Homo sapiens: one gene and its partners. The protein of the gene in region 2 purifies or fractionates together with the protein of the main gene of each other region. This does not show direct contact. Each region holds a gene or a part of one and is shown on either strand. Other genes may lie near its edges. The genes, in order: SKP2, SMTNL2 and NLN.

Region 1 (3,751 bases), on a different chromosome or scaffold from region 2:
AAAACATGCAACTATGATAAAAGAGACAAGGTCACACAATCAGTAAGTGGCAGAGGGGGAATTTAAACTCAGGTCTGATTTCAAATCATGCCCTTTCCATCCTAGTGGGTTCTAATATTCTATGCTCTCCTCTGTTGTAAGTACAAATTTTGAAAAGGTGAGAATTAAACCCGGACTTGCTATGGAAACAGAAATCAATCAGGGCTAGGGAGTGAGTGGAGGAGGAGAGAGAAAATAAAACAAAGATGCTATCAATGGGTTCACCACCAAATGGAAGGAGCAAGGTCCTAGAAAACACACATACTCAGCTAGCAGCCAAGTACCCAGTGCTCTTACTCAGCTGACCACAGAATGACACTAATCCTAGGGGCCCCGGGTGGGGGTACCACAGCCTGATATGGGCTGCTGTCCCAGCAGATGGGGCAGAAGTTTGTCTTTAATAGCTGCTCTAGCAATAGGCATCCAGGCTGTGATATGCTTAATCTAATTTTCCTTGCCATATTTAATTCTCAAAACATTAGCCATCTGTTTCCTGAATTCATGATGAAACTGCTGCCTGGTCTGTTTGCAGAGAGCGGAAGGAAAAATCCAGAGGTCTTTTCTCCACTTGTCTCTGCTAAATCCAGCAAGGCTGTAGCTGCATACCAGACCCACATTAAAAGACATAATTACTGAGCCCAAGGTCTCCAGTCTTCAATGACATGGACGGCAGTTAAATATACTTCAGGGCCAGGAAAGGGCAAAAACTGGGCCAAACCAGCAAACCTACTACAATCACCCTCACCTACCACTGTTTCCAATTATTTCTCAGGTGCAAACCCAGTTTCCCACTTCTGTAACCTTATCACATCTCATGCTTCCTGAAATTCTCTGGGAAGAGGGCCTTGTTGGAGAGTTTTCTATGCATTCCATCTTTGCAGTGTAGGTAACTCATCTTACTTGACATATTTATTTCTCAGAATATCACTCCACTCATTTATTTCTCAGAACATCACTCCACTCCACTCAGATTCAAGCTGAAAATCCAAAGTAATGCTAATCATAATCAAACTTTTGACTTAAAAAATTGCTGCTCTTTAAGCATAATCAGATTATACTTGCAGAAATGTATACTGAGGACCTGGTACTCATACTTGTTTTTGTGTGTGTGTGCATTTCTTTCAGGGAGTTGGGGGGTGCTCACCTCAGAATTGCTTTTGCTGGCTTGTTTTAAGTAGCAATACCCCATGCTTTCTTTCTGGGGAACTACAAACAGATTGTGCCATCCCAGATGAGTTCTCCTTCCTCTTCCCACAAACCATAAATAATACATTTGAGGCCATGTTGGCTTTGGGTGTTTTTGTTTTTTTGGCTAAGGTGGGCAAAACTGAAAAAAACAAAACACAGCCAAACTTAACAAGGATTCCCCCATGTACCCCTTCAGTCCCACAACCCTTTATTTCTATGAAAGACTTGCTCAACCCTGAGGTGTAGGGGGTGTAATGAAGAAACAACAGAAGCTGGGATTTGGAAAAAATATGGAACAGTGTATAAGCACTATGAGGGCAGGGTCTCTTGCCTGTTATGTTCAGTATTGTAGTCCCAACCTCTAAAACGGTGCTTGAGAAATATTTGCTTAATGGATGAATGAAAGGAAGCTATGGAACAAAGAAAGATGACTGGGAAGATCCCATAAAGGCTCTTCCAGTGCTGAGTTTAGTAACTGTAGACTGAGACTCACATAGATCATGAAATCAATTTAGTGGGTTTGACTAGCATATATGTACATATAAAGAATGAACTAGAACAGAATAGAAAATATCTTAGTAAGGGGAAATACAGTTTTGTAAAACTGCTGTTTCAGATACATACCCAGGATTGCAATGTAAAATATGTTTCTTACTGGTTAAAAAAAAAAAGTTGGAAAAAATGCTTGCCTAAGGGTATTAAGACACAGATTCCCAGGCTCACTCAGGCCAGGACTCCCCGGATCAGAATCTCAGGAATTTTACACTTTGAACAAGTTCCTGTGGGGATTCTGATATACAGTAAATTTTAGTATCTCCAGTCTGACAACCACTTTAGGGTCTGGAATTTCAAGCATTTAAGAGTCATGGAAGAGCTGATCAACAAATTAGTTCACCTCCATTTTCATGGCTATCACCTGTTTAAAGGGTGGGGTGGGGGACAAGCATTTCATGACCATAAATAAAATGCAATTGTCCCCTTTCCGCCTGTTACTGACCTCATTGCTGGGCCATTTCCTCCCCAACTCTTTCCATACACTCACTCCAAGGGCCAATCAGACCTGTTCTAGTACAGGTTGGCCACAGAGCTTTCATCTTCCCAGATAAACGGATGAAGAGGATTTAGTTGCCAGATGTACGGCTGGACTGGGGCCTGCAGGGAGAAACTGCTTAGCAAAGAACCAACAAAAACTTGCAGCCCAGAACCAGTCATCAGATATCTATGTACAGCAGGTGTGGCCTGTTCTACCCTAATCCTGGCAAAGCTAGTAGCCACCTGTCCTGACAACTGCAGACAAAACTCCTTGGAATGACAATCCGGCTCCACTGGAGGCCCAGGCTTCCAAAGGCCCATTGGGAATCCTCTATACCAGCTGTCCCTCATCCTGCATCACTGATTTCACCCTTCCCCACTCCACACCAATTAAGCAATCTCTGTTGTAAGTCCACGTACATTGGTTTCCCTCTGTGCCTCTCCTTAGGTAATAAACATAAAAGTCACCATTCTTTCTCTCTCCCTTCAGATATATACTTTTGAAGTCAGCTTTAACCATCAAGACACTGATTACACCATTTTCAGAGCCCTCTCTTTCCTCAGAATCTCCTTTCTTGCTGAGTGGAAGGAGGAAGATCTTCCACATCCACCTGAATGGGAATCACAGCTCTTATTTTTTATTGTATTTTCTCCTCAACTTGACTTGCAAATTCCTGGGAAATAGCAAAGACTCCGGAAACTTCTGTCTTGTTCCCACAGTGCCTTGCTTAAAAAAAATTCTTTTTCACTTGTGGAAGGGCATATAGCAATCACACTCTATGTCAAAAGCTATCGGCACTGGACAGGTTAATAAAAATCTGTTCATCTTAGCAGGAAGTATCTTTCGCCATATTTGGTTGGTCAAGCACCAGATTGTTAGGGCTACATTCCAGACACAAAGAAGAGCGGTGAACATTAAATTTTGAAGAAAAAAAATTTTATACTAACAGGGTCAGAGTAACAATATTAAAAACAAAAGATAAAAGTCCACTAGCCTCCAAAATTGGTGTCAGGAATTTTGTTGGCTTATGTATTGTTACGTGTCAGTGGCATGCTAAGGGTTTTACGTCATTCTCATTTAATCTTCACGACGACCTGTGAAGTGGGTATTATTACAGCACTCCATTTCACAGATAAAGGAACTAAGGCAAAGAAAGCTCGAATAACTTTCCAAGGCTGATAAACGCAAGAATGAGGATTCAAACCCAGATCTGACTTCACTACAACCCTCTACTGCTTTTCTAACTAATCCAATTCCTGATGTATATTCCCAGACCATAAATTGGGCAAAGTTCTCTTTCCTAAAGAAAAGGCTGAAAACAAACGTATTTATTTTCTTAATTAAAAGTGGAATGCATCTCGAATCCGCATGTCTTCCTGCGCAGGGGCCATGCTAATCTTCTCTGTATTTCCAGTTTCAGTATATGTGCTGCCAAAGCGAGCAACCAACCAATCAACTAAACAACCAATCTATCAACCCTTCTGCAAAGGA
Region 2 (3,751 bases):
GAGAGGATCGCTTGAGGCCAGGAGGTGGAGGCTCCAGTGAGCCCAGATTGCACCACTGCACTCCAGCCTGGGGTACAGAGCCAGACCCTGCCTCAAAAAAAAAAAAAAAAAAAAAAAAAACCAAACAAAAAAGTCAGAGATTATTCTTGTTGCCATTTTGACGATCATGCCTTGCTTTAAGAAGCAGGGTGGATCACAGAGAAGAGGCCTGAATGTGAGATCAAAACAGTAGAGTTCAAACCCCGACTCCTCCCATTGCTTCACTGTTCTGTGCCCATTTCCTTAGCACAAAATCGGAATACTGGCCGGGCACGGTGGCTCACACCTGTAATCCCGGCACTTTAGGAAGCCGAGGCGGGCAGATTGCCTGAGGCCAGGAGTTCCAAACCAGCCTGACCAACATGGTGAAACCCTGTCTCTACTAAAAACACAAAATTAGCCAGGCATGGTGGTGCACGCCTGAAATCCCAGCTACTTGGGAGACTGAGGCTGGAGAATCGCTTGAACCCAGGAGGTGGAGGTTGCAGTGAGCCGAGATCGTGCTACTGCACTCCAGCCTGCTGACAGAGCGAGACTCTGTCTCAAAAAAAAAGAAAAAAATCAGAATACCACCTCTGCTGTCCCTCCCAGTGGGCCTGTTGTGAGGCTGTGATTCCACAATGTGTCTTTATGCATCTTGTTCCCCAGAGAGCCCAGCCAGAGGGGAGACCCCAGCGAGCGAGCAAGACTCCTCTGACCCATCCCAGTTTGGCACGACGCACTCAGCACTTTCTACCAGGACTCACGCGGCTGTGTGCTCCAGAGACAAGACTGTAACATTACCCGCAGGCCCTGCTCTGCTGTGCTGGCTGGACGCCAGGCCTCCTACCAGAAACCAAATGTCAAGGCGAAATGGAGGCATCTGTCCTGGATCCCCTCCCCACCTCCTGCTTGGAGTTGTAGCGGGTGGCCTGTAAGTGAATCCAACAGGCTTTGTGGGGTGATGAGTGGGTTTGGCCCAATGAGCGGGCACCCTTTCTCCCTGGGACAGGCCAGGGCAGGGCTCGATGTCAGGGAAGCTGGCCCTCTGATGCGAGCAGGCGTGCAAAGGTGCTTTGTCGATGATAAAGCATTGAAAAATCTGAGTTCAGGCCGGGCGCGGTGGCTCATGCCTGTCATCCCAACATTTTAAGAGGCTGAGGTGGGCAGATCATTTGAGGTCAGGAGTTGGAGACCATCCTGGCTAACATGGTGAAACCCCGTCTCTACTAAAAATACAAAAATTAGCTGGGTGTGGTGGCGTATGCCTGCAGTCCCAGCTACTCGGGAGGCTGAGGCAGGAGAATCACTTGAACTCGGGAGGCGGAGGTTGCAGTGAGCCAAGATCATGCCACTGCACTCCAGCCTGGGCGACAGAGTGAGACTCTATCTCAAGGGGAAAAAAAAGGAAAGAAAAGAAAATCTGAGTTCAGAGAGGCTGGGGACCTGAGTTCACCTTCCTGAGCGATCATTTCATATCTGGTGCCCTCCTTTCCACCTGCCACACAGCTGGGGCACCTCCACTCCCACACCTGCTATTTGGAGGATCCCAGGTGTGTAGAAACAGGCTCCACACATGCTCTGGTTATCAGCACTGACGGCGGTGGCCTCAGTGGTGCCACATGTTAAGTAGGGACAGCATGAGGACTCTAGGACCTCCAACCATCCAAACACCCCCGTCAGAAGCACCAATCACCTCTATAAAGGCCCTGCCTCAGCTTGTTCATCTCAGGGTCCAGGGAAAGGGGACCCAATTTCCTCCAAGGACAGCTCAGAACCCTCTGCAGATGCTCTGACCACGAGAAAGTTCTTCTAACATTTCTTACGCTATTTGTGCCTGTGTGTACTTTCTACCTGCTGACCCCATAAGGCTACTTATTCTCAGTCTGATTTTTCCCCCATGTCAGAACCCTTCACACGCCAGAAGAAAACCTTCCTTCCATGTCTTTCTCTGAACTAAACAGCTCTGGTTCCTTAACTGTTCCCACAAAGGATACCCAGGACCCACCTCTCCGAACCAGGTCTTGCCACTCCCTAACCCACTTCATAGGAGGCCCTCAGAATTGCCGGCATTTTCCGGGTGTTGTCCAGCCTCTGCAGAAGACAGCAAGCTGACCCCTCCTCATTCTAGAGGCTGCGTTTACCCTCTGATAATGACCCCTGGTGGGCCCCTGCCCTGGTGGCAAGTCTTCAAGTCCAGGGTGGCAGTCAGGATGGGAGTGGATGCCATGCCCTGTGTCATCCTCCGCTGTCCAGATCGCCGGCTTCCCCAGCAGGCAACCAGGGCACTGGGCCATGATCCATATGGTCCCCACTGTTGTTATTTCTAAGTTGAGTACATGAGAGTGTAGGGGTTCCTAGGGGAGCAGGGAGGGGTCACAATATGCAACACGCAACCACCGTCTCCTGGCTCCCTCTTTTCTTCACCTGCCACCTTTGCTCTTCACCCACTTCTTTTCCTGGGGAGCTCCAAATTCCGCCTCCCACAGGCAGAGAGCATTCTCTGTCTTTGAAGCACAGCTCACAGCAGACCTTCAAGGGCACCCACCTTCCACGGATCACCTGAGGTCAGGAGTTCGTGACCAGCCTGGGCAACATGGCAAAACCCCGTCTCTACTAAAAATACAAAAATTAGCTAGGTGCCGTGGCTCAAGCCTGTAATCCCAGCACTTTGGGAGGCTGAGGCGAGAGGATCACCTGAGGTCAGGAGTTCAAGACCAGCCTGGCCAACATGGTGAAACCCCATCTCTACTAGAAATACAAAAATTAGCTGGGCATGGTGGCGCATGCCTGTAATCCCAGCTACTCGGGAGGCTGAGGCAGGAGAATCGCTTGAATCCAGGAGGTGGAAGTTGCAGTGAGCTGAGATTATTCCACTGCACTCCAGCCTGGGCAACAAGAACGAAACTCCATCTCAAAAAAAAAAAAAAAAAAAAAAAAAAAAGCACCTGCCTTCCACCCCAGATTGTCCCTGCAAAGGGAGCACTCTCCCTCAGAGACATGGTGCCAGCTTCAATGGCACAGGTTCATCATACCGAATCCAAAATGCGCCAATGAGCATTTCCTTTCAGCATTGTGTCTGGCACTCAAAAAGTTTCAGATTTTTGAGCCTTTGGATTTTTTAAATTTGGGATGCTCAACCGGTAAGTATTATATAATGCAAATATTCCAAAATCTAAAATCCAAAACACTTCTGGTCCCAGGCCATTTTGGATAAGGGATATTTGACCTATGATGGCAAGATTCCTGGAAGCTGCAGACATAGGCTGGACAAAACTCGGGAGACAGCAGAAAAAGAAAGTGATGATCAGCATTGACATTTATAAAAAATGTTTGAGTCTCCAAATATTAGAGGTCCCAATTGCCTTTTAAATTAAAAAAAAAACAACAACTGCTTTTGTAAAAATGATACAGGTTTGTTTTAATGATTCAAACAGGCCAAGTGCGGTGGTTCATGCCTGTAATCCCAGCACTTTGGGAGGCTGAGACGGGAGGATCACTTGAGGCCAGGAGTTTGAGACCAGCCTGGCCAACATAGTTAGACCCCGTCTCTAAAAAAAAAAAAATAGCCAAGTGTGGGGGTGTGTGCCTGTAGTCCCAGCTACTTGGGAGGCCGAGGCAGGAGGATCACTTGAGCTTGGGAGTCTGAGGCTACAGTGAGCTGTGATTGCACCACTGTATTCCAGCCTGGGAGACAAAGTGTGATCTTGTGTCAATCAATCAATCAATCAAT
Region 3 (3,751 bases), on a different chromosome or scaffold from region 2:
TTATACTATCAATTAGACTATTCTTGTACAGTGTCGTATCTGTGTGGTCTTTCCAAAAGCTATTAGACTTCATTCTCCAAAAGCTATCAGACTTCATTTTGGGAGTACGTGTCCTTTCCCCCTTTTCTTTTGCTCAGAAGACTAATAGTACCTGGTCTTTTTATTTTTTTTTTTTTGAGACAGAGTCTTGCTCTGTCATCCAGGCTGGAGTGCAGTGGCATGATCTCAGCTCACTGCAACCTCTGCCTCCCAGGTTCAAGCAATTCTCCTGCCTCTGCCTCCTGAGTAGCTGGTATTACATATATACAACACCACGCTGGTTAATTTTGTTCTCTTGTTTTGAGACGGAGTCTTGCTCTGTTGCCCAGGCTGGGGTGCGGTGGCAAGATACTGGCTAACTATAATGTCCACCTCCTGGGTTCAAATGATTCTCCTGCCTCAGCCTCTAGAGTAGCTGGGACTACAAGTGCCTGCCACCACACCCAGCTAATTTTTGTATTTTTAGTAGAGATGGGGTTTTCCCACGTTGGCCAAGCTGGTCTCAAACTCCTGACCTCAGGTGATCTGCCCTCCTTGGCCTCCCAAAGTGCTGGGACTATAGGTGTGAGTCACTGTGCACAGCCTAATTTTTGTATTTTTACTAGAGATGGGGTTTCACCATGTTGACCAAGCTGGTCTTGAACTCCTGGCCTCAAGTGATCCACCTGCCTCAGCCTCCCAAAGTGCTGGGATTACAGCCACTGCACCCAGACAGTACCTGGTCTTTTTAAAACCTATTCTGAATACCCTTTTTAAAAGTCAGTTAGACAAATAAAACAAGTTAATCCCTTTTACCTTTATGAAGAGAACATCTTAAGATGACAGGAAGTAAGTATTAACTAGGTCACTACTTTCACAAAGATTACTCTCTGTTACCCACACCAGGGTGCTGGTAGCAATGACCAGATCTCTCAGTACAAAAGAAATTAATTATATCCTGGCAGTGAGACAGCAGAATGAGGTAGCAAGAATTGTTATTTGACGCTGGAAAGAAAATCTGAGGACAGTTATAGGAGACTCCAATATTAAAGGATTACTCCTGAAAGAGTTCTTCGGTTAAAACTATATCCTGATACTTTTTATTTAAAAATAAGACTCATCTATATTTGGCAGGGTTTTACTTTTAGGTCATAATATTAGTGAAAGTAAGTCCATAAAGCAGCAGGTGATGTGATTTGGCTGTGTCTCCACCCAAAGCTTATCTTGAATTGTAGTTCTCATAATCCCCACGTGTCGTGGGAGGGACCCAGTGGGAAGTAATTGATTCATGGGGTAGCCAGTCTCATGATAGTGAGTGAGTTCTCACAAGAGCTGATGGTTTCATAAGGGGCTTTCCCCTGTTGGCTTGGCACTTCCCCTTCCTGCCGCCACGTGAAGAAGGATGTGTTTGTTTCCCCTTCTGCCATGATTGTAAGTTTCCTGAGGTCTCCCCAGCCCTGCAGAACTGTAAGTCAATTAAACTTCTTTCCTTTATAAATTACCCAGTCTCAGTCAGTTCTTTACAGCACTGTGAGAAAGGACTAATACACCAGGATAATCACTTAGGTGCTAAAAGACACTTCTGCCCACCAACTAGATGACACAGTTACTCAACCTACTTTTCAGCACTCAAAGTCAGTGGATTACAAACTTGTGTGTATTACTGAATGAGGGGGATACTATACTCTCCTTTGATCTATTTAAATGATTAGTAATTGTAAGAGGTTGACTTTGCTTTAGAAAGTAGCCTGGGGAGAAAGAGATCCAAATCCTTTTGTATCTGATGAAACACTATGGAATCTATAGTTATTACATGCTATAGACACAATTATAACATTTTTATAATTGTTACCACTGATATCTGGGGAAGATGATTTGCACATATAGTCTTTAATGCATAAAACAATCCTGTAAAAGGATTTCCAGTCCCATATTACAGAGGAAGAAACAGAATCTCAAAGAGGTTATGTCACTCAAGCATTCAAACTCAAATCTGACTGACTGCAAAGGTTTTGCTACTTCTACTAAACTGTGCTGCCTCTCAGCCAGACTGAAGGGAGTGGCCATAGATTATTGGCAGACAGATTATCTAATAAATATTTTGGTGCTCAATTTTATTTATTTATGTTTTTTGAGTTAGAATCTTGCTCTGTCGCCCTGGCTGGAGTATAGTGGCGTGATCTCAGTTCCAGGGTTCAAGCTATTCTCATACCTTGGCCTCCCAAGTAGCTGAGACTACAGATGCCTGTTAAATTTTTGTATTTTTAGTAGAGACAGGGTTTCACCATATTGGCCAGGCTGATCTTGAACTCCCGACCTCAAGTGATCTGCCCACCTCAGCCTTCCAAAATGCTGGGATTACAGGTGTGAGCCACCATGTCTGGGTGGTGGTCAATATTCAATTAAGTAAATGTAGTGCACAAACTAGATGATGATGATAATGACAATGGTAGCAGCTAACTCTGATTAAGCCTTTGCTATGTGCTGAGCAGTCTTCTAAATGCTTTGCATGTATTCAACCAATTTAATCCTTACAGTGACCATACAAAGCAGGTACTACTAATATTCCCAGTTTATAGGACCTATAATATAGGTAAGAAAACTGGGGCACAGAAAAATTAAGTAACCTACCTAGTAAATGATGATGCCAGACATTCTGGCTTCAGACCCACATTTTAAATCTGTATACTAAGAAGCCCATGTGAGAAATATGGAAGAGTAGAGTCTTTTTTTAAATTAATTTTTTTAGAGATAGGGTCTAGCTCTGTCACCTAGGCTAGAATGCAGCAGTGTGATAATAGCTCACTGTAACCTTAAACTCCTGGACTCAAGTGATCCTCCTGCTTCAGCACAGCTAGGACTACAGGTGTGCACACCACACCTGGCTAATTTTTCATTTTTTTTTTTTTGAGACAGGGTCTCACTCTGTCACCCAGGCTGGAGTGCAGTGTTGCAATCTTGGCTCACTGCAGCCTCCACCTCTGAGGCTCAAGTGATCCTCCCACCTCAGCCTCTCAAGTACCTGGGACTATAGGCATGTACCACTACACCTGGCTAATTTTTGTATTTTTTGTAGCAACAGAGTTTTGCCATGTTGCCCAGTCTGGTCTTGAAGTCCTAGACTCAAGCAATCCACCTGCCTCGGCCTCCCAAAGTGCTGGGACTACAGGCATGAGCCACCACACTTGACCTAATTTTTAAATTTTTTGTAGAGACAGGGCCTCACTATGTTGCCCAGGCTGGTCTCGAACTCCTAGCCTCAAGCAATCCTCCCACCTTGGCCTCCCAAAGTGTTGGGATTACAGGCATGAGCCACTGTGCCTGGCCAAGAGTAGAGTCTTAAAGTAGGCATAGCTGAATCCCTAAGGTCCCTTCCAACAACGTGATCCTCAGTACCTTGGATAGAGGTCCAAATAGAACTGTCCCAATACTTCTCCTGTAGCTTTATCCTTCACAGTATAAAGTGTAACACTCTTGTTCCAAACATGAGCATCTGTCATTTGTTCAAATGAAAGTCCCAACAACTCCTGGTAGGTGTTCAGCAAGCCTTCAGTGACCACCTCAATTGGGAAGTATTCCTTGAGGAACTCTTGGTCTATGGAATACTTGAGTTCCTCTGTCTGAGTCATGTAGTAATATAGATCCCAGGCATTGATTTTCCCATCATATTCAAAACCCCTGTCTTTGCATTCCTTTTTCTTCAAATTCAAAATAAACTCTCGTTCTGCTTCAC

What was found.
Region 1: the proteins of SMTNL2 (region 2) and SKP2 purify together in Homo sapiens (co-immunoprecipitation; 3 studies listed by BioGRID and IntAct, with this or other methods). This does not show direct contact.
Region 3: the proteins of SMTNL2 (region 2) and NLN purify together in Homo sapiens (co-immunoprecipitation; 3 studies listed by BioGRID and IntAct, with this or other methods). This does not show direct contact.

What each region holds. Positions count from the first base shown.
Region 1 is NC_000005.10:36,155,072-36,158,822, reverse strand, and holds part of SKP2 (S-phase kinase-associated protein 2), read right to left. Parts: intron 1-3,751. UniProt on the Homo sapiens protein: Substrate recognition component of a SCF (SKP1-CUL1-F-box protein) E3 ubiquitin-protein ligase complex which mediates the ubiquitination and subsequent proteasomal degradation of target proteins involved in cell cycle progression, signal transduction and transcription.
Region 2 is NC_000017.11:4,601,523-4,605,273, reverse strand, and holds part of SMTNL2 (smoothelin-like protein 2), read right to left. Parts: intron 1-3,751.
Region 3 is NC_000005.10:65,788,148-65,791,898, reverse strand, and holds part of NLN (neurolysin, mitochondrial), read right to left. Parts: coding exon 3,415-3,751; intron 1-3,414. UniProt on the Homo sapiens protein: Hydrolyzes oligopeptides such as neurotensin, bradykinin and dynorphin A. Acts as a regulator of cannabinoid signaling pathway by mediating degradation of hemopressin, an antagonist peptide of the cannabinoid receptor CNR1.